Linked DNA regions of Homo sapiens: region 2 is linked to region 1. Evidence: fine-mapped expression QTL. A gene starts in region 1. The other region holds a variant in brackets. All regions are shown on one strand. Distances are from middle to middle. Region 1 holds the start of ITPRIPL2 (ITPRIP like 2). Region 2 has its middle 27 kb from the start of ITPRIPL2.

Region 1 (2,861 bases):
TGTGTGTGTGTGTCTATGCGTGCGTGCACTTAAGCCAGTTGGAGCTGTGTTTCTGTCACTTGCAAACCTAAGAATCTTGACTGGTAGATGATGATCTCATAGCTAATATTAGTAGATGGGATCTGAAGGCAGATCTGCTTAGCTCTCAGGGGCCCAATTTAGGATTTACTGGGAACAACCCAGAAGCCATCTTTTGAGTCCTGGTTCCCAGGTGGCAGCTGGGTTCTAACATGTTTTAATATATTCACCCTTGCTCTCTTTAAAGGTCAGTGCCAGCAAAGAAGGTGTAATGAGTGTGAATAAAGAAAGACAATTATTTAAATAGATCAGATTATTTCAGGAAGTGCTCCCTGTTATGAAACAAAACAAGCTTCCTAGGACTGAGGTTCCAATGTAGACCCAGACAAAGGACCCCCAAAATTCCCAGCAGATGAGGAAGAGACCTTCCCTGGGCCCCCTCCTGGGAGTTCCACCCCTTGGTTTCTGCCCAGCTCTACAAAGGCTGTGTAACCTTGTGGGGGAGGGGGGAAGGGGGGCAGCTGAACCTGCCTGAGCTGAACCTGTTTGTGCCCCTTTCCTCCACTGGGAAAATAATTTTATTTTAATTTCATTTCATTTTATTTATTTTATTTTTTCAGAGACAAGAGTCTTGCTCTGTCACTCAGGCTGGAGTGCAATGATGCTATCATAGCTCACTGCAGCCTCGAATTCCTGGCCTCACTCAAGCGATCTTCTCGCCGCCTCGGCTTCCCAAAGTGCTGGGATTACAGGGGTGAACCAGCATGTTCCGATGAAGTCTCAGGCCAAATGTCACCCCTGTCATCCTCTGGTTTCCACAGGGTAGCCAGCACCTTCTCACTCCCTCGGGCACTTTTGTTTATTTTAGAGCGTTTTCTTGCTGTGGAATCCTTCCCCCCACTTTTTTTTTTTTTTTTTTTTTTTTTGAGACGGAGTCTCACTCTGTCACCCAGGCTGGAGTACAGTGGCGCGATCTCGGCTCACGGCAGCCTCCGCCTCCCGGATTCAAGCGATTCTCCTGCCTGAACCTCCCGAACAGCTGGGATTACAGGCGCGTGCCACTACGCCTGGCTAATTTTTGTATTTTTAGTAGAGATGGGGGGCGGGGGGGGGGGTCTCACCATGTTGGCCAGGCTAGTCTCGAACTACTGACCTTAAATGATCCGCCCACTTCGGCCTCTCAAAGTGCTGGGATTACAGGCGTGAGACACTGCGCCCAGCCCCTTCCTTTTTTGATTCCCATTTTTACAAGGCTGTAAGCTTCACGAAGGACAGAAACCTTGTCCATCTTGTCAACTATGATTTCCCCAGCACTGTGGCTCCGACCTGGCACATGGTAGGTGCTCGGTGAATACTGGTTTGAACAGACGACTGCGGCAGACGGCAAGGGCCACTCCTGTGCCAGGGCCTGCCACGCCACCGCAGCTTGTGCGGTGGGGGTGGGGAGGACTGGACAGTCTGGCTGTGCGCCCTTTTCTCCTTTTCAACGTCCCAGTATAACTTCAAGGGAGCGCAACTCCAGAGGCTCCCTGGACGAAGCTACCGCCCCGGAATCAGGGCCTTCCCAATTCTGCCTTCGGGGAGGGAGGATGGGGGTGGGCCGCGGGAGGCCAGTTCCAAGAGCGTCCTGAAGTCCCTCCCGCCGCCCCGCGTCGCTTTAAGGCGGAGGCCCGGGAGGGGGCCGACCCGGCTCGCCAGCTCCACGCTCGGCTCCAGACTCCGGCATTTCCTCCCCGCTAGCTGGCGCGGCCTCGCCTCCCCCTCGGAAGAGGAAACTCCCGGGGTCCGAGTAACAGGGTCAGGCGCGGAGAGGAGCGGCGGGAGAGCCAGGAGGGCCGCCCAGGGTAGGAGGCGAGCCAGGCCGGGCCAGAAGCTGGCCGACGGCGGCGCGCGGGGGCGCCGGGCGGGGAGGGCCGCTGGGCCGGACTCAGCGCGCAGCCGGGGCAGGGCGCGGCCCGGGGCCCGAGAGCGCAGGGCGGGCCGCAGCTGGAAGGAACACTTGAGCTGGGAGAGGAGGCCGAGCTGGAGGGCGGCCTCCCTCGGGCCTGCGTTCGGGAAGCCGCCGCGGAGGAGGAGACGGGGACAGCGGGGCTGCCCGGGCGCTGTGCGCATGCTGGGCTTGGGTCGCCGCCGGGGCTTGCCCCCTGGGCTGCTCGGCCACCGCCGCCCCGGGCGCCCGGCATGTCGGTGCACTACACCCTCAATCTACGCGTCTTCTGGCCCCTGGTGACCGGCCTGTGCACCGCCCTGGTGTGCCTCTACCATGTCCTGCGGGGAAGCGGGGGCGCCCGGGCCGAGCCCGCCGACGGCGTGGATGGCGGCTTCCCGTTGCTTAAGGTGGCCGTCCTGCTCCTCCTCAGCTATGTCCTCCTGCGCTGTCGCCACGCTGTCCGGCAGCGCTTCCTGCCCGGGTCTCCCCGTCTGGAGGGTCACGCCGCCTTCTCCTCGAGACACTTCCGAGAGCCGGGCCTCAGCATCCTGCTGGAGAGTTACTACGAGCATGAGGTGCGCCTGTCTCCGCACGTGTTGGGCCACAGCAAGGCGCACGTGAGCCGGATCGTGGGCGAGCTGGTGCGGGCTGGCCGCGCCCGGGGGTCCCCCGGTCTCATTCCTGGGGGAGCGCTGGCCTTGGCCTTCCGCGGAGACTTCATCCAGGTGGGCAGCGCCTACGAGCAACATAAAATCCGCCGGCCCGACAGCTTCGACGTGCTGGTGCCACTGCGCCTCCCGCCGCTTGTGGCGCTGGAGCCACGGAGCCTGGGCGAGGAGCCAGCGCTGGCCCCGGCCTTCCGCGGCTGCTTCTTGTGCGCCCTCAAGGCACCACCCTCACCATCGGGGGCCTC
Region 2 (2,904 bases), 27 kb after region 1:
TGGCACTAGGCTGTGTGCTTTACCCTTGGAATATCAACTGTTATTATCCCACGTTACTGCTACAGGAATCGAGGTTCAGAGAGGTTAAGTAACAGCCTCCAACTCATACTTGGCAAGTACTGGAGTTGACAGGTAGGCAGGGCAGGGATTTTTGTCCTCTGAGAAAGAAAATAACTTGTCCAACTTCACACAGCTGGAAAACGCCAAAGCTGGGATTCAAACTAGAGAATTTAGAGATCTTACATGTCTTTAGTACCTACTAAATGCCAGGACACTTTGAGGAATGATGAGGAAGTGTAGGTCAAGGTTAAGAGAGTAGCTGACAGATCTGGGCTCAGTTCTGCCTCTTAATTGACCCTGGGCAATTTCTTAATGCCTCTGAACCTCAGTTTATTCACCTGCAAAATGGGTAGATTATAGCCTAACCTCAGAGGGTGTTATGGGAATTCGGTGAGTTGATGCCTGGGGAGGATTTAGCACAGAGCCTAATGAGGAGGGTGCCCATCAATGTCAGCTCCCATCAATGTCAACATCTTGCTGGTCAATATCAGCAAGAATCCTCGATGAGGCAAAAATCACCAGCTCTGTGCTTCAGGTGGAATCTATTTCTCTTTCTTCTCCTTTCTTCTTTCTTCTCCCCAGCCCTGCACTCCCCCAGCTCTCTGATCATCCTGAAGGGCTGAAGAAAACAACCAGGGAAAAGCTGGAGTTTAATAAATAAGCTCCCTTCGAAATGACCAGAGGGCCCCAGGCATGAGCTGTCTGCAGTGGTTTTCACAGCAAGCTTCACAGCAATACCTTAGGTTTTTATTTATATTACATTTCCCTGTTTACAAAGCCCTCATCTGCCTGCCAGTTACCTCCCTGAACTTCTCCTGCAGTTCTGAGAGGGGGTAGGGATTTCCATTCCCATTGAAAGGAGGCCCAGAGAGGTTAGTGACTTCCCCCAAAGTCACCCAGCAGAGCAGAACTCACATCTTCTGCCTCTAAGTTCAGAGATTTCTTCATAGCATCCTGCTGCAGGACAGCAGTTAATGAAACCGTTTCCGGAAATAATTAAGAGTTAGAGCTGGGAAAAACATATTTTGAATTGGCCAAGAGGGAATTGAAAAACTGCACATGTCAAATCTCTGTTTTTTTCTCCTGATGTGGCTTTTTGCCCCTCATCCCCTGTTCCTTTTGTCCCATGTTTCTCTGACTGCCTTCACTCTCTCACACATAAGCAAAGCAGCAGACTGGTTCATTCATTCATTCATTCATTCATTCACTGTTATGGACTGAATTACATTCCCTAAAATTTCTATGTTGATATTTTAAACCCCAATGTCTCAGAATTGTGACTGTATTTGGAGATAGAACATTTAA[G/A]AGGTAATTAATGTAAAATGAGGTCACATGGTTGGGCCCTAATCCAATATGACTGGTGTCCTCATAAGAATAGACTAGGACTCAGACAGTACAGGAGCAAGGGACGACCATGTGAGGACACAGCGGGACGGTGGCCACCTGCAAGCCCCAGAGAGAGACCTCAGGAGAAACCAAACCTGCCGACACCTTGATCTCAGACTTCCAGCCTCCAGAGCTATGAGAAATAAGTGTCTTCTGGGTAAGGCACCCAGGCTGTGATATTTACTTACGGCTGCCAGGACACTTCTTATTCCTTCGGATATACTTTTATACACATCTCACTTCCTGAAGATCTTGGCTGAACTGTCACCCAGCGAGGCTTCCCTGACACCTTCTTTAAAATTGCAATCACACTGCCCACCTTGTTTCATACTCCCAAATTTCCTCATCTGCTTCATTTTTCTCGTAGTACTGATCACTATCTGAATACCCATATATTTGCTTATATATATACATATATATACCCACACACATATATATATACACATATATATATATATATATTTTTTTTTTTTTGGAGACAGAGTTTTGCTCTGTCACCCAGGCTGGAGTGCAGTGGTGCGATCTTGGCTCACCGCAAGCTCTGCCTCCTGGGTTCAAGTGATTCTCCTGCCCCAGCATCCTGAATAGCTGGGACTACAGGCGCCTGCCACCACGCCCAGCTGATTTTTGTATTTTTTAGTAGAGACAGGGTTTTGCCAAGTTGGAGAGCCTGGTCTCAACTCCTGACCTCAGGTGATCCGCCTGCCTCAGCCTCCCAAAGTGCTGGGATTACAGGCGTGAGCCACCACACCCAGCCACTTTTTTGTGTTTTCATTTCCCCTGCCCCAACACTGGTAGATAATTATAATGAGGGCAGGGAGTGTCTGTCTGTTTTGTTCACTGTAATTAACGTACAGTGTTTGCATCTGTAGTGTCTAGAACAAGGTCTTGCTCACAGTAGGTAATTAATTAAGTGTACCTTGAATGAATGAAGTCGTGCACCCACTCATTCAAGCAACAAACAGTAATGGTGCTGTGGCTTAGTGCCAGGCACTACGCCGGGGGCTGGGATATACCTGGAGACTCATACTGGACTGGGAGATGCTAGATACCAGCGCCCACATCATACTCATGCTTGCAACTTCTGTGTCTATTCCAGGCTTGGCCTAGGGATTGCTGTAGTTTTTCCTTGGCCTAGGGACTGCTGTATTTTTTTTTTCTGACAACCCTACACACGGATTTGCTTCACTTATGCAACCTTCAGAGTAGATACCTGGAAAACATTCGCACTGATTTTTAAACAACTTTTAATTTTTTTTGAGACAGAGTCTCGCTGTGTTGCCCAGGCAGGAGTGCAGTGGCGTCGTCTTGGCTCACTGCAGCCTCCACCTCCCAGGTTCAAGCAATTCTCCTGCCTCAGCCTCCTGAGTAGCTGGGACCACAGACATGTGCCACCATGCCTGGGTAATTTTTGTATTTTTAGTAGAGATGGCGTTTCACCATGTTGGCCAAACTGGT

The links. PIP is the estimated chance that this variant, and not a neighbour inherited with it, causes the effect.
Region 2: its variant is fine-mapped to the expression of ITPRIPL2 in blood mononuclear cells (TOPMed, PIP 0.92).

The regions. Positions count from the first base shown.
Region 1 is chr16:19,112,263-19,115,123 of GRCh38, forward strand. ITPRIPL2 (ITPRIP like 2) reads left to right here and starts at 1,702. Exons shown (of 1, transcript NM_001034841.4): 1 at 1,702-2,861. The coding sequence starts at 2,200. RefSeq lists silencers at 1,704-1,803, 1,894-2,263.
Region 2 is chr16:19,139,532-19,142,435 of GRCh38, forward strand. No RefSeq gene overlaps it. Among named protein-coding and RNA genes, the nearest start is that of ITPRIPL2, 27 kb to the left of the region's middle. The variant G/A (reference allele first, on the strand shown) is at 1,366.